7 linked regions of the Homo sapiens genome follow. The protein of the gene in region 2 purifies or fractionates together with the protein of the main gene of each other region. This does not show direct contact. Each region holds a gene or a part of one and is shown on either strand. Other genes may lie near its edges.

Evidence for each region.
Region 1: the proteins of DLD (region 2) and HSDL2 purify together in Homo sapiens (affinity purification with mass spectrometry; 2 studies listed by BioGRID, with this or other methods). This does not show direct contact.
Region 3: the proteins of DLD (region 2) and PDK3 purify together in Homo sapiens (affinity purification with mass spectrometry; 3 studies listed by BioGRID and IntAct, with this or other methods). This does not show direct contact.
Region 4: the proteins of DLD (region 2) and NUDT21 purify together in Homo sapiens (affinity purification with mass spectrometry; 2 studies listed by BioGRID, with this or other methods). This does not show direct contact.
Region 5: the proteins of DLD (region 2) and FMC1 purify together in Homo sapiens (affinity purification with mass spectrometry, with the first as the bait; 3 studies listed by BioGRID). This does not show direct contact.
Region 6: the proteins of DLD (region 2) and SLX4IP purify together in Homo sapiens (affinity purification with mass spectrometry; 3 studies listed by BioGRID and IntAct, with this or other methods). This does not show direct contact.
Region 7: the proteins of DLD (region 2) and DHTKD1 purify together in Homo sapiens (affinity purification with mass spectrometry; 2 studies listed by BioGRID, with this or other methods). This does not show direct contact.

The regions. Positions count from the first base shown.
Region 1 is NC_000009.12:112,378,722-112,382,907, reverse strand, and holds the start of HSDL2 (hydroxysteroid dehydrogenase-like protein 2), read right to left. Parts: upstream 2,801-4,186; 5' UTR 2,745-2,800; coding exon 2,728-2,744; intron 1-2,727. UniProt on the Homo sapiens protein: Has apparently no steroid dehydrogenase activity. Controls bile acid (BA) and lipid metabolism in response to nutritional cues.
Region 2 is NC_000007.14:107,904,683-107,908,182, forward strand, and holds part of DLD (dihydrolipoyl dehydrogenase, mitochondrial isoform 1 precursor), read left to right. Parts: intron 1-275; coding exon 276-376; intron 377-678; coding exon 679-822; intron 823-1,584; coding exon 1,585-1,686; intron 1,687-3,500. UniProt on the Homo sapiens protein: Lipoamide dehydrogenase is a component of the glycine cleavage system as well as an E3 component of three alpha-ketoacid dehydrogenase complexes (pyruvate-, alpha-ketoglutarate-, and branched-chain amino acid-dehydrogenase complex).
Region 3 is NC_000023.11:24,527,786-24,531,285, forward strand, and holds part of PDK3 (pyruvate dehydrogenase kinase, isozyme 3 isoform 2 precursor), read left to right. Parts: intron 1-290; coding exon 291-401; intron 402-3,500. UniProt on the Homo sapiens protein: Inhibits pyruvate dehydrogenase activity by phosphorylation of the E1 subunit PDHA1, and thereby regulates glucose metabolism and aerobic respiration. Can also phosphorylate PDHA2.
Region 4 is NC_000016.10:56,428,633-56,431,482, forward strand, and holds the end of NUDT21 (cleavage and polyadenylation specificity factor subunit 5), read right to left. Parts: 3' UTR 501-2,850; downstream 1-500. UniProt on the Homo sapiens protein: Component of the cleavage factor Im (CFIm) complex that functions as an activator of the pre-mRNA 3'-end cleavage and polyadenylation processing required for the maturation of pre-mRNA into functional mRNAs.
Region 5 is NC_000007.14:139,340,195-139,344,136, reverse strand, and holds the start of FMC1 (protein FMC1 homolog), read right to left. Parts: upstream 2,801-3,942; 5' UTR 2,753-2,800; coding exon 2,615-2,752; intron 1-2,614. Other genes in the region: FMC1-LUC7L2 readthrough protein, read right to left, coding at 2,615-2,752. UniProt on the Homo sapiens protein: Plays a role in the assembly/stability of the mitochondrial membrane ATP synthase (F(1)F(0) ATP synthase or Complex V).
Region 6 is NC_000020.11:10,623,805-10,627,304, reverse strand, and holds part of SLX4IP (protein SLX4IP), read right to left. Parts: 3' UTR 1-3,500.
Region 7 is NC_000010.11:12,089,454-12,092,953, reverse strand, and holds part of DHTKD1 (2-oxoadipate dehydrogenase complex component E1), read right to left. Parts: intron 1,442-3,500; coding exon 1,270-1,441; intron 1-1,269. UniProt on the Homo sapiens protein: 2-oxoadipate dehydrogenase (E1a) component of the 2-oxoadipate dehydrogenase complex (OADHC). Participates in the first step, rate limiting for the overall conversion of 2-oxoadipate (alpha-ketoadipate) to glutaryl-CoA and CO(2) catalyzed by the whole OADHC.

The sequences.
Region 1 (4,186 bases), on a different chromosome or scaffold from region 2:
AGAGACTGATAACTCTGGCTTCACAAAAACATGTTTCTCCATGTTAAATAAACAGTATAATCAAAGTCCAGATGCAACATGAAAAACTGTGGAAAATATTTGTAATGTGATAAAAGACAAATTTTTAAAATACACAGAGCCCTCAGAGATTAACGAAAAACCTCATTTGTTAAGCCAGACAAATATAAAGATACATAGATGGCTTTAAACCAGGGTTTCTCAACCTCTGCACTACTGACCTTTTGGACTACATAATTCTTTGTTGTACGGAATGCTTGTGAATTGTAGGATGTGCACCAGCATCCCTGTACTCTACTCACGAGATGCCATTAGCATCTCCATTCAATTGTGACTATCAAAAATGTCTTGAGATATTACCAAATGTCCTCTGGGGATCAAATTGTCCCTGGTTTAAATACACAAAGAGATCCAAATCCACACTTGTGATAAAATAAATGCAAATTTTAACAATAATGAGGTGACACTTTTTTCTCTAATTAGATTTTCATCATTAACTATTTTGCGGTTAGCCAACAAGTGGGATTAGAGGATCTCATTTATCCTTTTGGGTGTGCAACCCTTCTGGGGGGTCATCTGGAAATATCTGTCAAAATATAAAGTGCATTTCCTCTTTTTTCTTTTTGAGACAGACTCTCACTCTCTCTCGCAGGGTGGAGGGCAGGGCAGTGGCATGATCTCGGCTCACTGCCACCTCCGCCTCCAGGTTCAAGCGGTTCTCCTGCCTCAGCCTCCTGAGTAGCTGGGATTACAGGTGCCCGCTACCAGGTCCAGCTAATTTTTGTATTTGTAATTTTTGTAATTTTGTAGTTTTAGTGGAGACGGAGTTTCACCACGTTGGCCAGGCTGGTCTCGAACTCTTGACCTCCAGTGATCCGCCCGCCTCGGCCTCCCAAAGTGCTGGGACTACAGGCGTGAGCCACTGTGCCCAGCCACATTTACTCTTTGATCCAGCAATTTCACTTCCAGGAGTTTATCCTACATATACACTTATATATGTGCAAATAGATAAATACAAGTATAATTATGGAAGCAAAAAAAGAGTATCCAAAAAACTGGAAACAGTCTAGTATCCAACAATAGGGAACAGGTTAAATAAACAAAGGTATATTCATATACAGGTTGAGCAAACCAAATCTGAAAATCTGAAATCCGAACACGTCTGGAACCAAGCATTTTGGATAATGGATACTCAAGCTGTTACAGAATATTATGCAACCATTAAAAAGGAGGAGGGGCCAGGCGCAGTGGCTTACGCCTGTAATCCCAGCACTTTGGGAGGCCGAGGCAGACGGATCACGAGGTCATGAGATTGAGACCATCCTGGCTAACATGGTGAAACCCCGTCTGTACTAAAAATACAAAAAAATCAACAGGGCGTGGTGGCACGCGCCTGAAGTCCCAGCTACTCGGGAGGCTGAGGCAGGAGAATTGCGGGAGGCGGAGGCTGCAGTGAGCCGAGATCATGCCACTGCACTCCAGACTGGAAGACAGAGCGAGACTCCATCTCAAAAGAAAAAAAAAGGAGGCGGAAGATCTGCCATGTACTAAAAATGTATGTCCCTGGGCACAGCGGTGCATGCCTGTAATCCTAAATACTCCAGAGGCTAAGAAGGGAGGAACATCAGCCTGGGAGTTCAAGGCTACAGGCCAGTCTGGGCAACATGGGAGACCCCGTCTTTAAAAAAAACAAAGAAAGAATGTCCCAAGACATACCAACTAAAAGTAGCAAGACCAAGAATAGAGTCTGCTGCTATTTTTAAGAAAGGGTATGTGTGTGTGTGTGTGTGTGTGTGTGTGTATCCGGATGTATACAAATTATGTTCATACATGCACGAAATAGAAACGTAAGTAACTGGGGAACTAGATTTTAGGGATGGGGAGACTCACTTTTTACCCTATACTCTTTGAACTGTTTTAAGTCTTTGGCTATATGCCTGCATGTTTCAGGCAAATTACAAAATCTGACAACACGTCACTCAACTCAAGATACCCAGACCTTACATAAACCAGAAAGTAGAATGGTGGTTGCCAATGTACGAGCGGAGGTGGGGAAGAGGAGTTGTTTCATGGATAGAGTTTCAGCTTGCAGATGAAAAAAGTTCTGGAGATTGACTGCACAACGATATGAATCTACTTAACACTACTGAAGTGTACACTTAAAAAACGGTTAAGATGGCAGATTTTGTACGTATTTTAACACAATTTTTTAAGGTGAAAAAAAAATCCCCCAAAGATACCCATGTTTTAAGATCGGTTTAGTTTCTAATTTGGAAATCATTTTTTAAACACTCCATTATTACTCTAGAATTGAGCGTCAGGAACAAGTGAAAACTCTTTAAACTCTGGAGCTGCTCCTGCGACCTTTCACCTAGAACTCACACGCATTCGGCCAGGCACGCACTCCTGCTAAACTCAGGGAGGGCCGGCACTGGGGGCGGCGTGGTGACTCCCCCTCGGCCCTTTACCCGTGGAAAAGGTTTCTACACTGCTGCCATCCTGTAATACAAAAGTTTGTGTTCCTTTTCACACGTTACCGCAGATTCTCGGTGCACAGTGCCCAGCGCGGACCAGAGCTCAGAGCGTGCCCAGGCAGTATCCTTGACCTCCCACAGCCGGGCCGGCCAGCCCGGGCGATCCGCGGCGGCCCCACCGAGACGCGCCCTTCGCCCGACAGGGTCTCTCCCCGCGCCGCCCCTACCCCCTTACCCGGTGTTGGGTAACATGACTTTCGTAGATCAGAGGAGGTGGCGGCGACAGCGGCGGCGGCGAGCAGAGAGCTAAAGCTGGACCGTCCCTCCGCATTTATCCCCGCCCCTGCCCCGCCCCTGCCCCCCCCGATGCCTGTGCGGGAACTGCGCGCGGAAAAGCCGGGATCGCCGAGTGCGCCTGCGTATGCAGTGGGCCTCCTGCGCCCAGCGTTCCTCTTCGTCGCCTCCCAAGCCTGGTCCCTGATTGCAGGCTCTCCGCGCAGGCGCTTTGAGGCACAGCTCCGCCCCGCCCCCTCACTGGTCGTACGGTGACAATCAGGCTCCTGTCGGCGCCTAGCGTCTGGGCAGCGTCAGCCGCTACGTCCACCTTTTCCCTGTCTCTAGGGGTTTCTCCTCGCGCCGCTGTGTTCCAGCGCCGGCTCCGAGCTGGGAGGGTGACTGAGCCCTGAGCTTGGGCCCTCCGAGAGGTGCGTTAGCTCTGGGTCTTCTTGCCCCTACGCCCGAGCCTGGCGTTCTCTCGGCCCCCTCTTAGGAACGCTAGCCCTGGGCAGAAATTGCCTTTGTGGCTGAAGTCGGCCAGCGTCGCGTTTCCACTCTCCCGCCGAATCTGGACCCAAGCCAGCCTTCCCTTGTGCATCGGTAGATAGCTTGTGTTAAGGCGCCAGCTTCTTGGAACAGAGCTCTCTGCAAAAGTCGCGCTGAAGAATTCATAGTCAAAAGCTGAACTTGCAGAAGTTTCTACTTCTGGAATGAGTGTTGAAATGAGATCAATTCTGACATTCAGTTTCGCTTTTGGGATTATGCCTTGGACTAACTCAGCTACTCTGATGAGCTAAAGACTGTAGTATATTTGAAGGAAGACACGAGGAACTGTTTTGTATTTTGTAGGGATAGAACAGGACCTTGAGGAGATTATTATATGAAGACTAGTTAAAGAAACTAGCCTGGAGATGGCTTATGTACTCTCTCCTTTGTTTTTGTTTTGTTTTTTGAGACGGAGTCTCGCTGTCGCCCACGCTGAAGTGCAGTGGCGCGGATCTCGGCTCATTGTAACCTCCGCCTCCCGGGTTCAAGTGATTCTCCTCCCTCAGCCTCCGGAGTAGCTGGGACTACAGGCATGCATCACCACGCCTGGCTAATTTTTTTGTGTTTTTAGTAGAGACGGGGTTTCGCCATGTTGGGCTGGCTGGTCTCGAGCTCCTGACCTCAAATGATTGGCCCGCCTCGGCCTTCCAAAGTGCTGGGATTACAGGCGTGAGCCTCCGCGCCCGGCCTCTCTCCCCTTTGTTATGGGCCCTAAATGACTCTATTTCCTCCTGCATATCACCTGCCCGACTCCTGTAGGCATTTGAATTGATGATTCATGATACGGTCTTTAGAGGCTCCAGAGGAATTTGCAAATTATTATCATCCACTAAGTGATTGCTGATTACCTGAGATACAGCAGCTCAAAAAGG
Region 2 (3,500 bases):
GTTCAGAGGATATGTTATCACAGTGGGATATAATGTTTTATTTTGGACTGCCTTTTTACCCAAGGTAGACATTTTATAGTGTTTGATAGGTTCTGTTTCTGTGATACAATGATGTTGGCCTTTTGTCAACTATAATTATAAGTTATTACATTTTGAAACTTTAATACTGCCTTTTATAAGCATTAGGTTGAAATTTTCCAGTTGGTGAGTGAAAAACACTGCATATTGCTTCAAGAATTTAGCTAAGAACTAAAGATTAATTGAACAAATTACAGTGTCCGAAGTTCGCTTGAATTTAGACAAGATGATGGAGCAGAAGAGTACTGCAGTAAAAGCTTTAACAGGTGGAATTGCCCACTTATTCAAACAGAATAAGGTCAGTGTTTAATATTCAGATTTCTGCTTTACTTTGAATACAAATTAAACTTTGCATTATAGAGTGATGATATTTGAACTTGGTTACAGGGGAATATTTATTTAATTTAAAATAGCTTGCTAACCTGAAATAGATTTCCCTGACATATATCACAGATTTTTTTGCTGCACCATGGTGTAGCATTACTAAGTAAGGAAGCATTTTGTTTTAGATAAATTATTTACAGAGTAATTTTTCCTTTGAATGATTTATCAAACAAATTACTTTAAACTTTGTGAATTTATAAAGATTATTTTGTAAAGGTTGTTCATGTCAATGGATATGGAAAGATAACTGGCAAAAATCAAGTCACTGCTACGAAAGCTGATGGCGGCACTCAGGTTATTGATACAAAGAACATTCTTATAGCCACGGGTTCAGAAGTTACTCCTTTTCCTGGAATCACGGTATTTATGCTTCATAATTTACAACCATTACAACTTTTCTTTAGAAATACGTTTTATAAGTTATTTATGCTATTTGTGAACTTTGAGAGATTTCTGACTGAAATACTATATTTTGATGGTCATTCAGCTTTGGGAAGTTACCTGTCTTTATTCTGCAGTGATTCTGACCAGCTATAGAACACTTTATATTAAGATATGTTTGAATACAGTATGAAGTTAAAATTGACCATTGCGTTTGGAATATTGGTGGATAAAATTTAAAGTCAGTGTTTTTAATGGGATTTGATGAAATTAGGTATATAGATACCTCAAAACAAATAAATGACTTAGTATTTTTAGTGATTCTACTGAGATCACAGTTTATAAATACATTTATCTCTTCATATCCTTGGAGGATTGGTTCCAGGACCCCCCTTGGATACCAAAACCCACAGATGCTCAAGTGCCTTACATAAAATGACATAGTATTTGCATATAATCTGCATACTTCCTCCTGTATACTTTAAGTCATCTCTGGATTACTTATAATACCTAATACACTGTAAATGCTATGCAAGTAGTTCCTATGCTGTATTGTTTAGGGAATAATGACAAAAAAACCATGTGTACATGTTCAGTACAGATGCAACCATCAATTTTTTTCCTGAATATTTTCAATTAATGGTTGGTTAAATCTGCAAATTTGGAACCCATGGATATGGAGGGTCGACTGTACTAGGTTTTTTCAAATTATTTTGATTATATCTTTTGTTTTTCTTACAGATAGATGAAGATACAATAGTGTCATCTACAGGTGCTTTATCTTTAAAAAAAGTTCCAGAAAAGATGGTTGTTATTGGTGCAGGAGTAATAGGTGTAGAATTGGTAAGTGTTGTCTTTCTGCCTCTTATTACCTCCTTGGAGTTGGAAGGGACTTAAAGGTCCCCTTTTTGATTTTTTGTATAACATTACAGGCTGATCAGCATTGAGTTTTGCTTAAACACTTCTAGTAATAAAGAGTTTACTTTTGTTTTTTTCAAGACAACCTATTTATGTATTTACTCATTTAGAATGTTCTCCTTTATTTTAGTCTGTTTCCTTGTACCTTCCACCCTTCCATTTCCTAGAACTGGTCGAATTCTTTTTTAATATGACAGCCATTCAGATATTTGAGGACAGCTTTTATCCTGGGCAAATTGCATTCCAAATAAAGATTATTCTCTTTACCATCACATACATGATTTGGCTCTTCCCTTCTCTATCCTCATCTTGATGCCTCTTAACTTAGGTTTTAGAAATGTCAAACTACTTGCATTTCTTTGAACACCATGTTATTTTAGACCTTCTGTCTGCCTTGTTCTCCCTTCTTGTCCATCTGGCAGCTTTCCACACATTTCCAATGACCTCCCTCCATTTTAGAGTCACTGTGCCTTGTAAACACCAGGAATTGCTCTACTTCTGAAATAATAAATTCAGATATTTTATTATGTAACCATGACCTCCTTTCCTCTTTTACTCAGTTATTCATAGTGTACTTTGTACCCTTTTTTAGGTTTTCTAGTCCATAGATCTACTTTTTTGCAATCTTCCCTTTCCAATCTTGACTGCGTTCCTGATCAGCTTAGATGCCATAGTCCATCACTTTAACCACACTCTTACAGATGTCCTTGAGTTGCTTGTCTCACTGTTCTGTCATATCTGCTTGGCAAAACTCTAGTTCGGTTTGAATGCAGCAGTCTGCCTTTTTTATGCTATTTCCAGGCTGTTGACTACACCTGGAGAAAAACACACCCTACTCATTGGTACTTGTATTAATTCTTGGCACAAACCTTAACAAGAACCTCAGCCTTGCTGACAGTTTATTATTTCCTAAGATGGTACACTGCCCTGGTCTCTGCAATGGCCATTTTCATTTTCTACTCTTCTCAAATCTCTGCTTGTATACTGTCTGCTCTGCCTGTGGATGACCTTGTCTTTTAAATATTACATAAAAGAGAAATCAGATGAGAACTCCCTCAAGTTGATGTCCTAAATTTGATAATGCTTTTACCTGTTGTTACACCTATCCTTTTGATTACCTCTCCTATTACTGTGGAAATGCCATTTTCCCTAAGACTAATCCCTTTACTTGTGCTTGGTAGCACATCATCTGCCTTTTCAGAGACTTGGTTTTGTGATTTTTATTCTTGTATTTTTCAGTCTTCAAACTCCTTCCTTTTATTTACAATTTCATGTGCTTCTATGTGTGTACCTGTGATGCATTTGCACTCATTAACACAGGTTTGTGTGCACATAAATGCTCCTTATCTTGGTCCCATGTCCTTCTTGAGTTACCAATTTTGTTCGCACTTTTCCTTCAAAACCCAGCTTCTCAAAAGAGTTGTCCATGCTTTATTTCATCAACTTCCACTCACTCAGTCTATGGCTTGTGCCAATAAATTGCTCTTAGGGCATGAATCTATTTATTGCTCAATCTGTTGGACTAATTTCTTCACTGCTTTATTTGGCAGTAATTAGCATTGCTGATTTTCTTGCCTTTGAAACACTTTGCCTAACTTCTGTGATTTCATATTCTTCCATTTTTACATCTGCTCTTTGGGCTGAATTCTCCATATTATGCAAGTTCCCCTTTCTTAGGCTTCCCTTTAATTGTTAGTATTTTTGTTTTTCTTTTTTTTTTTTTTTGAGTCCGAGTCTTG
Region 3 (3,500 bases), on a different chromosome or scaffold from region 2:
TAAGTTCTATGCTAGATCCTTGGCTTAAGTTACCTTATTTAAACTTCATTAGAACCTTGTTATTCAGGGAGTTGAACAAGACCTCAACACCAAGCCTGTTGGATCCCACTGTACCATTCGGCCTCCTTTGTTTTACACTGTTCACAAAGGAACCGTATGTCACTGGGGGATTCAAAGTCCTTGTACATTGTGGAGTAATCTGCTATGTACTTTATTTAATGAACCCATTGCCTCCTACTAAGTATAGATCAACTTCTTTGTTTTGATTGTTAACATTTTGAACATTGCAGATCAGTGACCTAGGTGGTGGTGTCCCACTTCGAAAAATAGATCGTCTTTTTAACTACATGTATTCTACTGCTCCTAGACCCAGCCTGGAGCCTACCAGAGCTGCCCCTTTGGTAAGCATCTGAAAGTGCTGCTGAAGGAAAGATCATAAACACAGGAAGGGGCTCAGAGGGAGCTGCCTCTCTCCCCAGGTTGTCACATTAGTGTAGTTGATTTAGAAGGTTGCGTGTATTATGGTTTGGAGGAGGGAGAATTTTTTGCCTTGGCTACTTGCTTTGTGAATCCTTTGGACTTCAATTTCCTCTCTGATTTGTGTCTAAGAAACACTCCTAGCTGAGTGCCTCATTCCCATATACAGAGAAAAAGTACCTCATTGTGGTAAGACTGCTACTGTAGCACCATTTTCCACTTTGTGCTACCCTTGGAAGGGGTGGAAGTTGCCAGTGGGTGAGCAAAGGGACAGTACTGAATGCATAGCTGCCGCTTGGTCCTGCGCACTCTGGCGTGCGTACCACAGAGGCGCGAATCACCTAGTGCCTTGGAATCTCCACTGTCAAATTTGTTTATATAATTAAAATGTTAAATTATGAAAACATTAAATTTTTATGTTAAATAACATTAGCATGAAACATATAGGTGGTGTATGCATTTTCAGAGCCCTTTCTGTCTCACTCTGGAAATAACCTTCAGCCCTGTTAAGGCAGTGAGAAAAGCCACTGGTTACCATGGTAGCATTTAGATCCTGGTAGGGCCACACTTGCTTCCCCTGCTGAGTGTTTCTAATTGACAAACAACAATTGAACCCTTTGTCATTAAACACAGCAACATATCTATCAGTCTGCAAAATGGTTCAGGGTATAAATTAAGTTTCATTTTAAAGTCGTACCTGACTGATAAGCACATAAGATTATATTTTATTTGTATGAATAAAATCAAACACTTTGCATCATTTATTTGAGACAGAGTTTGTTAACTCAGCATGTTGGAAACAGGAAATCATTTATATAGGAGTCGAGAAAATTCATGAAAGATCACATTTGAGAGGCGTTGCCTTGACTAGGCTCTGGCATGCACTTAAATACACATCAAAAGGAAAAAAGGCACCACAAACAAATCTAGCACCTTCCCCAGTTGTTTAAAAGAAATATAGATTGTCTCTTCCAGGTCTTAAAATAGCATCTTGAGGATAGCTGTTATATCATAGGTTTTTTTTCTTATTGAAACTGAGGGCTTGTAAGAGACTTTTAACAGTTAACGCATGCGCACTCCCATTGTATAGATGAGGAAATGAGGAAATGACCTTGTCCAAAGTCATTGAACTAATTAACTGCAGAGCTGGTGCTGGCCATGTCTGTGTTCTTTCCAGTGTACTACGTGGCCGAAGAAATGCTTCTGCTAGTGGCTCTCCCAGTTAGGAAACTGGCCTGTAATCCTAGCACTTTGGGAGGCCAAGGCGGGTGGATCACTTAAGGTCAGGAGTTCGAGACCAGCCTGGCCAACATGGTGAAACCCTGTCTCTACTAAAAATACACGAAAATAGTCGGGAGCAGTGGCGCATGCTTGTAATCCCAGCTATTCAGGAGGCTGAGGCACAAGAATGGCTTGAACCTGGGAGGTGGAGATTGCAGTGAGCCTATATCATGCCACTGCACTCCAGCCTGGGCGACAGAGCGAGGCTCTGCCTCAAAAAAAAAAAAAAAAAGAAAAGAAAAAGAAACTGTCCTCAGCTTTAAAGTGGGCACATGGATATGTACTACTAGAAAACATAATTTCCTCATTGAGCAACTTACACTTTTACACCTTTTACACCTCTGTGCCTTTACATGTGCATTTCTGTTTGAGAATATCCACCCAGCGAACTCCTGCTGATCCTTTGACACTCTGGGAAACCTTTCCTGAACCTCAGCAAATCCGAGGTCCAGACCCCTCCTCTGCATTCTTTGGGAGTCTGGGCTTACACTCACATCTGCATTGGCCTCGGAGTTCTCGGCTCTTCTGTGTTGGACATGAGGGCAGGCTCTGGGCCTTGCTTGAACATAGAAGGCAGATTTGCTCACATCTCTTCCTAGAGTGAGCTAGTTTCTTTGCTGTGGTTACCTGAGTCACTACTATAAATATCTCATCTTCACTACTGGCCATATTCAGCAAGTCCCAAAGCCCTTAAATAATGGGGTACGTTCTTTTACCCCCTGCCCTTTCAGTTAAACCCTACCCTGAGGGAAGGTATCAAGGAGAGATGTTAGAAAATGGCAGAAATCTGTGTAACTTCATAAAATTGCTGCTCCTAGTAGCCATAGTACCAGCCTCAATTTATTTAGTTTTACTGTGTTAGGCACTGTGCCAAGATTTTATACTTGTTATATTATTTAATCCTTATAGCAGCTCTGAGGTCAGTTTTTTATCATATGTTCAGATGAAAACATGGTCTCAAAGAGGTTGAGTAAACTGCTCAGAGTCGCACAGAAAGTGGATTTCAACTGGGTCTGTCTGAGTCTAAGGCCCATGTGACTCTGTGCACATGGTCCCCTGCCCTCCTTCCTTAACCTTGTTCATAGATTTAACCAGAAGTGAGGAAGCTTGGTGTTACATCTCCTTCCCCACCCTGCCCCACTACCACCACAAATGGTATTACATTTAGTTTTGATTCTTACTGTTCTTGTCCATAGAACACCTGTTATTGACAGTCAGGATTCCTTGACATAGAGATATAGGAGGGTACTGAAAATTTTTTTAATCTCTAAAAATACCTGAACTACAATATACCAAAATATTCTCACATTCCCGGAACCTTAGTAGTTGCCTCTCAGAAAATTGTTTTCCTTTCCATGTTCTCGTCTTGTTACTGGTAGATTTGTACTCAGCACTGCGCTATTGATTTTCACTTGCAAAAGCAAGGAAATCTGATCATGGGACTTTGAAATGATGTGGTTTAGTTTTGTCATCAGGTCACATTCCACTTGATTTGGAATGTGCTTTTGTGTGTGTGTGTGTGTGTGTGTGTGTGTGTGTGGAGATGGAGTCTTGCTCTGTCGCCCAGGCTGGAGTGCAGTGGCGCCATCTCAGCTCACTGCAACCTCCACCTCCTGGGTTCAGGCGATTCTCCTGCCTCAGCCTCCTGAGTAGCTGGGACTACAGTCTCCCACCACCTCGCCCAGCTAATTTTTGTAGTAGAGATGGGGTTTCGCCATGTTGGCCAGGCTGATCATGAATTC
Region 4 (2,850 bases), on a different chromosome or scaffold from region 2:
ATATATTCCCGTATTTTGGGTAAACTTTCTATTTAAGATAACATTGAATTACACAGTATTACATATGCAGCAGGTATGGTGTGTGTCATAGAACATTATGAATTCCAGGCAAGTTTGAGAAAAAAAACTAAAGGAGTCAACCCTCCCTTTACAGATGAGGAAACTCGGACTCAGTCCCCAATGATATGGACTACACACAGTTAACACAACTGTGTAGCAACTTCTAACTTGTGGCCTTCATGTTCCAAATCTAGTGACCCTTTCACACCTCAGGAAACTGAAACACTGCTAACACACAATGGGAGGAGGGAGTGTGTGGGGCACAAGGAGAGGGCAACATCAGTGACCCAGGCCATCAGGCCCTTGCTATTATGCTAAGCTGTCTCTTACCTAAAGGCCCTCGGCCACTCACAGTGACGAACCATGCAAGATTTCTACTAGCACAGTAGGATCAGCAGCCACACATACAGGACTACTATCCCAAAACAATCACAGAGTCATTCTCTTTCAAATATTTTTTATTGAAATGACAATAAAATAAAAAAAGAACAGTGATCACTTTAACCAAACTTACTTTACAAATATAAAAATATAACCAAAACTTGTTTCTTTTATACATTTGCCATAAACGTAATACCAGAAAAGTTCTCAAAACCAAACTATAAATGATGCTTGAATACTATGATGTGAACACAATAACCAAAAGTTTAAATTTCTAAATACATGACCTTTCCCTCAACAGAACAGCATAATCAATATATCTTCCCAACTTATCTCTATTTTTACGATATGATCCATTACTAAGATACAAAATACACCTGAACTGGCCTAATCTAGAGTTACCTAGGTTTTAGTAAGTTTTTTTCCACAAAAACAAGCTTAATAACTATAATACAAGCTAATATTAAAATGTGTTTTATGGCTCAAATCAAATTACAGTATTAGGTTTCTCATCACGATTTGAACAAAAGCAAACTGCTTGAAATGAGTCCAGTTTAACCCAAATAATCAGTGATGTATAACAAGTGAAGTAAGTATGGGAAAATCAAATCTTATGCTACAGAAAGCTGACTTATACTACAGTCAACAACCACTAAGCCTTCTTTGGCAATGAAACATACAAAATTGCAAACTCTGATGCAGTCTCAGTGATTGGCATATACTGTTCCAAACACTATGAACTAGTAAAAACATTAAGTTTGAGGATGGAAAAGCTACCCCAAGCATTTCATCTCAAGTGACTGAACAAGTACTGTAAAAATAAAGTCATTAAAAAGCCGAGAACATAAGAGCACAACATTTAAGAAAGGGAATTTTAAGCCGATTGCTTGCTGGCCTGTTGAATTTGAAGTACTTCTACCTCTCACTTCTAATTAAACATGGAAGAAAACAGACTGGCTAATTTGGTCACACTTTGTCCAAATACAGTGTTAACTTAATGGAACCCTTAAATATCCAAAATAATAAGTGAATGCTATTTATAAGACAATAAAAAGTTTTAAAATCTTCCAAATGTGCTGTTAACAGTACAAATTCAAGTGCAGAATTATTACGCCATTTTAAGTATTATCTACTTTTTTAAAAAATCACAGTGGTCTTCATCACATGGCGAAAAAACAAACTTCACTCTTCTCCAAAGGGATAAGTCCATCCTAAATGTAACTACAAACAATTGTATAAACCTTTATAGTTTTTCCCCCTAATCTACTAAACATATTCCAGTGTCATTTAGTAGTTTTACATAGAATCTGCACTATACTTGGATACTCAGGGAAAATAAGATGACATATATTGTAGTTTTAGAACGCAAAAGAGCTTTCATTTTAGACAAATATACAACATAGAAGCCACTAAAAAATATGGGTCTATTAATCAAGAGCCCATTTCAAAATGATAAGAGCATTTAGTATGTAGATCTGGAATGCACAGTTTCTGGAAGTATTAGAACTTAGTGTTAAACAGTGCCCTTATACCCTCTTCTAATACTGTAGACACCTACCAACCAGATTTGATTTCCCCTAATTCTATTATTTCCATCAGAAAACCAAAAACAGATTATTGGGGATCCACCTGTAACTGACCAGAGCAAAAAGTTTTTAAGACTTCCGTTTGTGTGTTGCAACTTTTACATTCAAAACCAGATCTCTTACATTTCAAGGTTAGTAACCCAGCCATCCTGAATCAAAGGTTTTTCTCAACTAGGCCTTAGTGTATGGATGACTGGCTCACGTACTTACTGTATATTGGGAAGAAGTGAAGAAGTGAGAAGTGAAGAATTTCTTGGTCAAAGTTTAAGTTACAAAGAACATGAGTGGCCTCGAATCAGATGACTCTTCAACTCAAACACTCCTTACTGAGAGTACTTTATAAAACACACAACAAAAGTCTACCTCTCTCCACCCTCCACAAATTGCAAAAGTGAACATCTGAAATGTGGCCACTGTAGCTTTTCCCTCAAAAGCAATCATGGAAGGTGAGCTGAATCAATCCATCTTCATATCCACTTCCTCCAATCTAAAGGAATAGCTGAAGGACGCAGCTAATGGATGAGCTTACCAGCAAAATACATTACATGAGAAATATGCTAATGTAGGCTAGAGGGGTAGGACTGTTAGGGGCAGGAGGGAAAAGGACAATTCACAGAACTAGTGGCTTTTTCAAAGGAAACTGGGGCATTTTTGATCATGGAGACTGGTGCTCACCTACCATGAAGGACATGCACAGTTAGTCACTACTTAACCACCATGTGAGGGTTTGACATGACCCCAACTAAAAAAACTTGAGTGTTTATTAATTGCTCAGCTACACTTGGCCTGATTTCCTCAAGTATCATATACCTTTGACATCACC
Region 5 (3,942 bases), about 31 Mb from region 2:
TTTCTTCATCATACTTAACTTTTGAGATTCACTGCACCCTCTTTAACTAGTTCTGTATTCAAGGCTGTGAGAAAGGGGCAGGAAAGGTGAGATGGGGATGTGTGCATAGCTCTGAGGGACTAAAGGAGCCATGTCCAAATGTGGATAAATCTGGGCACCACTGCCTACATAATACGCCCCCCACCAACTCTTTTTTTTTTTTTTTTTTTTGGGGACAGGGTCTCACTTTGTTGCCCAGGCTGGAGTGCAATAGCGTGAACATGGCTGCTGATCTCCCCAGCTCAAGTGATCCTCCTGCCTCAGCCCCGCAAGTAGCTGGGACTACAGACGCACACCACCATATCCGGCTAATTTTTGTATTTTTTATACAAACAGGGTTTCACCATGTTGCCCAGGCTGGTCGTGAACTCCTGGGCACAAGCGATCCACCTGCCGCCTCCTCCCAGAGTGCTGGGATTACAGGTGTGAGCCACCGCTCCTGGCCTAATCCCCTTTCTCTATTTGAATATCTAGTGTTAGAATCTGAAAACTAGAATGTGTGTGGCTTCTTGGTTTTTGAGACAGGGTCTCGCTCCGTGGCCTATGCTGGAGAGCAGTGGTATGAACATGGCTCACTGCAGCCTTGATCGACTTCTTGGGCTCAAGTGATCCTCTCACCTCAGCTTCCCAATTAGCTGGAACTAGAGGATGGGCCATCACGCCTGGATAATTTTCAAATTTTTTGGAGAGGAAGTCTCACTACACTATGTTGCCCATGCTGTTAGAATGTGGGTTTTAGGATCTGCAGATCATGTTGAAAGCAACATTCATTAGCTGCTTAAAAACAGAATTAATCTGCTTTAATACAAATTTAACTTTTTAGTAATTTAAATTTTATGAGAAATCAACACCAATGTCAAGCATTAACAAATCATAGCATCCACTTCTATTAATATATAAGCCCAAATTTGTGGAATTTGACATGGGAATTCTAGGTTAATGTAGGATAGAATACTGCTCTTGATTCGGTTGAGCCTGAATCATGAGGACAAAAGGGTCAGCAATAGACAGGAAACAGTAAATAGATCACAAGAACCCAAAAGAGATCAAATGAAATAGAACACTGTATTTTCCCTGTGGAGAAAGGGTAGGTTTCTCCCTAATAGAATCCCTTCTCCGGAGGGAAAGGATAGAGAAAATGGGATGGTTATTCAGTTAGCTGTGAGCCTGAAGGAAACAGAAACCATTTCCCCTATGCTCAAGTGCATTCCAGAGTGGTATTTCCAGAATGTACCATGAATTTCAGAACCATTACCAAGTCTCTCTCAAGGGTAATAATGTTATCCCCATAAGGTACAACTATAATCATGTCACCTCCTTAAAAATCTTAGAATGGGGCCAGGTTTGATAGTTCACGCCTGTAATTACAACACTTTGGGAGGCCGAGGCAGGCGGATCACCTGAGGTCAGGAGTTCAAGACCAGCCTGACCAACATGGAGAAACCCCGTCTCCACTAAAAATACAAAATTAGCCGGGCGTGGTGTCGCATGTCGCCTGCCTGTACTACTCGGGAGGCTGAGGCAGGAGAATCGCTTGAACCTGGGAGGTGATCACAATCTTAGAATGGCTTCCCATTACACTTACAATAAAGTTTAAGTTCCTGTTCGGCCTACCACTTCATCTACCTCCACTTCACCCACCACACCTTAGGGCTAAACCACTCTCAACTGGCAATTTTTCTCCCCTTGGGCTTTCAATTGTGTAGCTTTTAAACCTGGACCCTAACCCCAATTTACTTGCTAACTCCAAATTAGCCTTCAGGTCCCTGATTAATTTCCTCCGGAAAACCTTCCCTAACTACCCCTTCTTTATACCCCAGCCCCTGTTGTCTACACCTTGAGCACTTATTTATCCTCAGTACTTTACTGTATGGCTCCTTAGGTGGGCAGCAAGTGTCTTAAGGACAGGACACATGTGCATCTGATTCTTCCTGTTTAGACCAGGTTCCTAGCACAGACCCTAACGTTGCCACCTTTTAAAAACTAGGTGAATTTGAGTTCTAAGATTTTACATTCTGACGTCCGTGGCTCAGAAATTCGACAGTTGATCGTTCTCCCTTTCCCCACATTGCTCAAGGGCAGCAAGTTTCCTTCCCTAAAGCCCAGTTGTTCTTTTCCGCCTCAAAAAGAAATGCTTCTTAGAATAACTTTTCTAGGGGACGGGTGAGGAAATTGTTGGCCAGATGCTGTGGCTTTAAGTCTAGCAACAGTACACCCTTCAACTCCATCTTCATTGTTTTATCCCCAGCATTGAATCCTCCATTCCACTTTCCTGACTGCCCTCCGCAGAGGCAACAGACCAGCCAATGAAATCCTTCGGGACGGGTCCGCCCCTCTGCAGGACAGGCTGACGTCCCCAGAGCGACTCTGCGCCCCCCCCCGCTGGTCCTTTGGTCCCCGAGTTTATGCCAGAGCATGGAGCCTAGGGCCTGGGTTGGTTTGGTCAGAACCAGGGCTCCGTGGGAGGGTTGGCCTCAGAAATGCAGGAATTAAACACCGTGCTCCCCACCCTAGCCCAGACCCGGCTCTTCCTCCCTCCCCAGCACGTAGAGCACCCGGGACATGGCTCCCGTACCCGATGTGCACGGAAAGCCTTCACAAGGTACCGATAGGCCGCGGTGTCGCGATAGGGTCGGCCGGTGGCCGCGCTCAGGTAGCGCAACTCCCGCAGAAGTCCTCGAAAAGTGTGCGACGGGGACCCTAAGGCCGCCATTGTCCTGTCCTTCTCCGAGCGTGGTGCCCAACGGCGTCCTACGACCCTGAAAACCCCTCCTCCGGCCCAGGCGCCTAATGGTACGGTCGGACAGACTACCGACTCCCCCTATCGACTGACGAGCAGTGGAACCGCTCACTTGTCCGTTGACCGAACCTTATTAATCGAAGGCCCAGGGGCGCCGTAACAAAATCAAACGAAACCCGACTGTTAACTGAAGGTACCAGGACCTCTAACCCAGAACAAGGGTTTGGGGAAACAGGGGCTTTTCTTCACTGCGTCATTGAAGATGCCCGTTAGCCGACCAACCGCTGAGTCTCAGGAGAAGCGGGCCCGGCGGGGGGTGTGGGTGTGGATTTGATATGGAACACGCTGAGAAGACATTTTTAAATGATTTATAAAAGGGATATCAAAATTCAACGTATTGACGTCTCCCCAAATCCCAGGGGACCTGCGGCTCAGACAAAGGACATGGGTGTGTGCAGATTCTCGAAAATTGCAGCCCACCAGCTAGTAAAAACACACACACACTTCCCATTTAAAAAAAAAAAAAGTAAAGTTGGCATATTTCGCTTTGTTTAGAAAGGGGAAAAAAGGACAAAAGTCACAGGCCACCCCAGATGGGACTCGAACCCACAATCCCTGGCTTAGGAGGCCAATGCCTTATCCATTAGGCCACTGGGGCTTCTGCAAACGACGCGCTCACACAACATATTCAACTATTTTCCTCTTTGGTACGTCATCGTCACTTCATTTTCGCCTTACCCTATCCCACGAAACCACACCTAGCGCCCACGTGAGGGGTGACGTATGCTGGGAGTTGTAGTTAGAGAACAAAAGTCCACATCACCGCGCCAAAGGCTTTACCCTCGAAACTGCACCGATGCTCCGGACGTTGAACGGGCGCGCGCACGCTTCTGCGTACGCGCTTGCCTGCGCAATAGTCTCCGCGCCTGCGCCGTAGTCCCCGCGCCTGCGCAAAAGCGGGCATGCGCCGTCGCGGAGCACAGCGCGCTGGGCAAATTGGCCGGATCTTCGAGACTCGCCCTCTGAACGTCAGCTCTGGTGGGTTTTTACCGGAAGCAGCCGGACCTTTTCCGGTGTTGCGAATTTCCAGGAGGAGCTTTGCTCCAGCGGCCGTTAGATGGCGCCTGCCGCGGTCAATTTCTGCTTCCGGTTGAAGCGTTGAG
Region 6 (3,500 bases), on a different chromosome or scaffold from region 2:
TTTCAATAATAAGGAATGAATTCTCTTGTCTTGACAAACCAAGCATGGAAATTTCCCCATAAGAGAAAAGAAGAAATTAAAATGATTTCCATATTCAAGTCACAGCACGCTGAAAAGAGAACTTTGAGTTCTTAGGAAAGGCATCTGTTACCTCCAAAGGAGGGCCACTCATTACAGTTTTGTGTAATATTACAGTAAGGTCTGCCAAGAAGGAATTCAAGGAAATTGGGAATGACGACACTGTGATCCCAGGCCACTCTCTTGAGCAGAGGTTTCCTTCCCTTATGTGTTCTGCCCTCGCCAAGCTCTTTCTGAAATCAGAGGCCACTGACATGCATAACAAACCATGCTAAAATCCAAACATGACACCAACAGCAAACAATTACACTGTGATCCCATTGTGGTCCCCAAGATATATCTTGAGATACTTCAGAGAGAAGCTATATTCTTCATAAATCAAAATACAGAGGGTTTTTATGATTCTTGCTTTTTATAAAATGAAATACACTTCTATAGTATTAAAATAAGTGAACAAAAGAACTACAGCACTTACTCCCCTACCCCCAAATGTTTGCTTCTTTGCATTTCACAATTCATATGCATATCTGGACGACAGTTAACCTCCAGTGGCAAAGATAAGAAAATGTGAAAGAAAAATCATACAGATTGTTCCCAGACCTTTCTTGTTTATGGACATTAAAATAACCTCAACACCAATCTATTAAGATGCCATCTGAAAGCACATGGAAGTGGCTTAGAATCTATGCCGCTGAGAAAGTTAGGAAATTCAAAGTTATAACATTAATCAAATCATATCAATGACTTCTCCAAGCATTGGAGTCACAGGGACTTGAATATAATTTGGGGTACTACGCAAGTGGTTGAAGAACTTGTTCTTTTTGACTAACAATACTGACACTGTTTCAGACTTTCAGATGCCAAATTATTAAGATCATTAAGAATGTCAAAACAGGCCGGGTGCGGTGGCTCTCACCTGTAATCCCAGCACTTTGGGAGGCCGAGGCGGGCGGATCACGAGTCAGGAGATCGAGACCACCCTGGCCAACACGGTGAAAACCCGTTTCTGCTAAAAAAAAAAAAAAAAAAAAAAAAATACAAAAAATTAGCCGGGCGTGGTGGCGAGCGTCTGTAGTCCCAGCTACTCAGGAGGCTGAGACAGGAGAATGACGTGAACCCAGGAGGCGGAGCTTGCAGTGAGCCAAGATCGCCCCACTGCACTCCAGCCTGGGCGACAGAGCGAGACTCTGTCTCAAAAAAAAAAAAAAAAAAAAAAAGAATGTCAAAACACATACCATTCCCAACAGTGAGAACTCTTCATATCCTACCTAATAAGCAACAACAACAAAAAACCCCTGGCATCCATTTACCCCTTTGTACTTCCAAATATCCAAAGAATCATGCAACCACTCAAATAACAAGAGAGCCAGGGGTGTTTCAGCCATGTGCAAGAAAAATGCTTAAAGGCAAAATTCCTCAAACACATGTCACAGTGTGGGAACTGAGAGCCATTCCCTCTGTAAATCCTGTTAAAATCCCTTTTACATGAAGGGACGTGAGGGCTGTGAGGAAAACTACATCTATCTACAACCAAAGGTGCTATTTTTTCTCTTCGATCACAGTAATTGTTATATCCCCAACTATAACAAACTCTAAAGCCAAGACTTTTCCTGACAGAGAATCATTCTAAGTACAAGTACTAGCCTTAACCACCAAGCCCAGGTTAGCTAATGAAATAAAAATTTCTCAATACCAGAGTGATACTTCAGAGAAAGATTAGAAGAAAACAGAAATAACAAAAAACCAACAGAACAAACAAATAAAAACTTCTCAATAGAAATGTTCTCTGGTGGCTCCAGCTCAAATATCTCCCCCCTAGTTCTGGAGCAGGCAGTGGCTACTGTTCTAGTACAGCCGTCTTTTTAATTCCAGACTCTTCCAGAGAGCTGCTTCTTGGTCTATCCCCTGGGTTACTTATTACTTGTGCCCTCCCTATATCTAAATCGTTCTAATTGCTTCTGTTTAAGAAGATTCAGTGACACACTGTGGTCCTGTGTTCAATAAAGAGCACACCTAAAATACTGTTTGCTCTAAGAGAGGCGCCTACAGTGGGCCATGGAAATGCACATTCTACCAGGTACTCGGTTTCCACTCTGTGCAGCCCACCCCTATTGTATAAGCAGAGTCAGCTCCACTGAAGTTAGTATTCTGTTGGGCTCCCTCTTCTCCTATAGAATCCCCTGACTGGGTTCCGCTGGGAGCAGGAAAAAAGCCAAGAGGGAAGAGGACAGGATACCAGTAGGAAGGGCTGTTTCAAGTGGGGGTGGTGAGGCTGGGATCATGGGACAGGAACAGGTTTCTAGGCAGGGTTTGGAACATTAAAGTAACAGTATCTACCACCACAGTCAGGCTTGGTGACCAAGATGGAATTTCATGACCCAAAATGGTGCCATGAAATATAGCTGCTGCTTCATGAGTCTTACTGGTCTTAACAAGTGGGGACAGGAGATACGGGAAAGGATAGAACGGGATGGAATAAACCACTAATCCATCTCAAGCATGAACCTACACTATGCCTGTTTCTGTACTCTTGTCATTGTTTTGGGCTTTTCTGGGTGATTTTTCTGCTAACTTCAACACTTTAGGGAATATACTTGGTTTTCCTTATTACTTAGGGGAGGTGCCATTTCAAAGGACCACCCCATGTTGAACAGAAAAAAAAAAAAGATGTATTGAATGAATGGACCTTGAATATTGTTTCTTTCCTCTTTTAGAGTGAAATTCGGTTATTGGAAACTTTTAGCGGGTGTCCATCCAAAATAAGTCATTGCTACAATTCACTATGTGACATTTCATCAAGCCCACTGGAGACAGTGGGTGACATTGTAAAGGGAAGGCTCCCATCTTGAAATTTGAACTGCCTGCGAAGCCTTCCAACTGGGAAACTGGAACCTGGTCACTGAGTTCCTGTTAGGTTATAGTCTGTCCCAAACCAAAATCCTGGAGGTGGGTGCAAGAGCAGGGACTGGGACATGCTTGAGCTACAGGCAACAACGAGCCTCTCTGATGTCTTCTCCTAAGGTTGGGCAGAATCGCCCATCGACTTCAACAATTATAAGGGAAAGTAACACCTTCATGGGTGCCATGGCTGCCATACTGTAGAACCCGGAAGAGAGTGACCCATACACCAAACCCAAGTGTTTTACGAGTTTGAGGGAGTCCGAGGGGATGCATGTGCACATCTGGCCCCAACTGGTGAGCTGGAGGCCATGGCAACCAGGCTGCAGGAAGCACTGGGGAGTGTTCTATTAGTCCAGTGGTTCTCAAACGCGAGCATGTTTCAGAATCACCCAAAGGCAGTTACTCAGCATGGGGCAGGGCCCAATAACCACATTTCTAGCACATTTCCAGACAACGAAGCTGGTCCCAGGACCACGCGCTAAGAACCACTAGCTTGTTCTTTCACTGCCCTCCTACTCAGG
Region 7 (3,500 bases), on a different chromosome or scaffold from region 2:
GTGAGCCATGATTGTACCACTGCACTCCAGTCTGAGTAACAGAGCAAGACTCTCAAAACAACAACAACAACAAAAAAACCTACCAATTTCCACAGATAAAAAAGAAGCTGACTTTGATTCTTCACATCTTATTTCTTTTTTTTGCCCTTTGAGATGGAGTTTCGCTCTTGTTGCCCACGCTGTAGTGCAATGGCCTGATCTTGGCTCACTGCAACCTCCGCCTCCCAGGTTCAAGTGATTCTCCTGTCTCAGCCTCCCGAGTAGCTGGGATTACAGGCATGCACCACCATGCCCAGCTAATTTTGTGTTTTTATTAGAGACGGGGTTTCTCTATGTTGGTCAGGCTGGTCTCGAACTCCCAAGCTCAGATGATCCACCTGCCTTAGCCTCCCAAAGTGCTGGGATTACAGACGTGAGCCACTGTGCCCAGCCTTCACATCTTATTTCTAACTATACTATTTCACCAAGTTTAGTGGTTGAACACATCCCTTATCACTAAGCCCCTGGGCACTCCAAGTTTGAATATCCTAGAGATAACAACTCTGGTGTTGTACTCATTGTGTTGATCTCTGACTTGTACCAGATCACCCATCCAGTTATAAGAAATTTGAGATGGCACACTGTGGCTCCATCCTTGTCTTATTTCTTTGGATTTAAAAATCACACTGATAGGCTGGGCATGGTGGCTCACGCCTTTAATCCCAGCACTTTGGGAGGCCTAAGCAGGCAGATCACCAGAGGTCAGGAGTTCAAGACCAGCCTGCCAACATGGTGAAACCCCGTCTCTACTAAAAATACAAAAATTAGACAGGTGTGGTGGTGTACACCTGTAGTCCCAACTACTTGGGAGGCTGAGGCATGAGAATCACTTGAACCTGAAAGGCGGAGGTTGCAGTAAGCCGAGATCACGTACTCCAGCATGGAGTACAAGCTGGAAAGGGCAACAGAGCAAGACTCCATCTAAAAAAAAAAAAAAAAAAAATTAGCCAGACATGGTGGTGCACGCATGTGGTCCCAGCTAATCAGGAGGCTGAGGCAAGAGAATCACTTGAACTCGGGAGGCAGAAGTTGCAGTGAGCCAAGATCGTGCTGCTGCACTACAGGCTGGGTGACAGAGCAAGACTCCATCTCAAAAAATTAATTAATTAATTAATTAATTAAATGAAAGGAGGGATAACCAGTGAGGCTCATTGTTCTGTGTGCACCAGAGGTTTCCCTAGGAATTCCATGTCGGCTTCAGCAATATCAGTTCCTCCCTGTGTTACGTACCAATATCACTGCAGTATAAAGAAGACCTTCCTCTTTCAGCTGGAGTGGTGTAACCCAGCTGGTTATTAACAATCAAATGCACACTCCCACCAATTCTGAAATGTGGGAGATTGGACAGCGTGAATGTTTCAGGAACAATCCCTTGACCACAGAAAGAAGCATCACCATGGACCTAAATCATGAGGCAAGGGGAGCGGGTGGGGAGAAAAGAAACATAAGGGATTAAGAAATCTAGGTTTTCAGGTTGGAATAACTTTTTTTTTTTTTTTTTTTGAGACAGAGTCTTGCTCTTTCGCCCAGGCTGGAGTGAAATGGCACGATCTCAGCTCACTGCATCCTCTGCCTCCCGGGTTCAAGTGATTCTCCTGCCTCAGCTTCCCTAGTAGCTGGGATTATAGGCATGCACCACCACACCCGGCTAATTTTTTGTATTTTTAGTAGAGGCGGGGTTTCACCATGTTGGTCAGGCTGGTCTCAAACTTCTGACCTCAGGTGATCCACCCTCCTTGGCCTCCCAAAGTGCTGGGATTACAGGCATGAGCCACAGCGACCAGCCTCATTTATCATCATTTTAAAGAAAATGGCCTTTTCACCTTTTATTTCAGAAGTCAATCTTTTTTTGTTTTTTTTTGAGACGGAGTCTCGCTCTGTTGCCCAGGCGGGAGTGCGGTGGCGCAATCTCGGCTCACTGCAAGCTCCGCCTCCGGGGTTCACGCCATTCTCCTGCCTCAGCCTCCCGAGTAGCTGGGACTACAGGCGCCCGCCACCACAATCTTAAGATCAGCTCAATGTACTGGGTAAAAATGAAGGATTAAAATAGAGTATTATAAATTATGTGAAAGGTAAACAGAATGTCTGGCTAATGATTTCAAGATTTCTATTTAGAAACACCCTATCAGGCCAGGTGCAGTGGTTCACACCTGTAATATCTACACTTTGGGAGGCCAAGGCAGGAGGGTTGCTTGAAGCTAGGAATTTGAAACCAGCTTGGCCAACCCAGCAAGATCATGTCTCCACAAAATAAAATAAAATAAATCAGCCAGGTATGATGGCATGCACCTGTAGGCCCAGCTACTTGGGAGGCTGAGACAGGAAGATTGCTTGAGCCTAGGCATTTGAGCCTACAGTGAGCTATGATTGCACCATTGCACTCCTGCCTGGACAAAAGATTGAGAACCCATCTTGAAAGAAAGAGAGAGAAAGAAGAAGGAAGGAAGGAAGGAAGGAAGGAAGGAAGGAAGGAAGGAAGGAAGGAAAAAGGAAGGAAGGAAGGAAAAAAGGAAGGAAGGAAGGAAAAAAGGAAGGAAGGAAGGAAGGGAGGGAGGGCCGGCCATATCATAATGAAATCCAATTCTGCCTACTCCCAATTTATTCACTACAAGTTTCTGGCCTGTGAAAAATTAAAATGCATAGGATAACGTGGCATTTACAAACATAGAATATTTGATTGCCTTATATATTTATCTATTTCTGTGGAATTTGAAGACTGATTCTGAAATCCAGGTTTCATGATCTCCTGTAGTTAAAGGTTCATATTTAAATGAATACTCACAGAAGAAACATGACCACAGCCCAAACCTCTAAAAGATACTTGTTGTGTTACCAAAAACTGGGAGACAGGGTAGAAAAAGAACGAACCACACTGATAATTTGTGTTATGTGCCTTAATACCAAAGACTTTCATTTTCAAATAAACAAGCAAAAAAAAAAAATAGGCTAGGTATAGTGGCTCATGCCTGTAATCTCAGCACTTTGGGAGGCTGAGGTGGGAGGATCACTTGAGGTCAGGAGTTTGAGACCAGGCTGGCCAACATGGTGAAACCCTGTCTCTACTAAAAATACAAAAATTAGCTGGGCGTGGTGGCACGTGCCTGTAGTCCCAGCTACTCGGGAGGCTGAGGCAGGAGAATCACTTGAACCCAGGAGGCAGAGGTTGCAGTGAGCTGAGATTTCGCCACTGCACTCCAGCCTGAGTGACAGAGTGAGACTCGGTCTCAAAAAAAAAGCCATAAAAAAGAAAAGATAATAAAGTAAACAAGAAACGAAGTAAAACCACACTTAAAGTCTTTTTTTTTTTCACGCTTGTCTTGTTATATGTATGGGAACCACAAAGTTTCCAAGAAGGCCATACTTCCAGAGAGATAATGACATCTGTGCTCTAAGAAGGAGCAGGTTTGCCAGCCCAAACCCCAAGTTAATTCATAAGCCATGCAAGGAAAACAGAAGTGGAA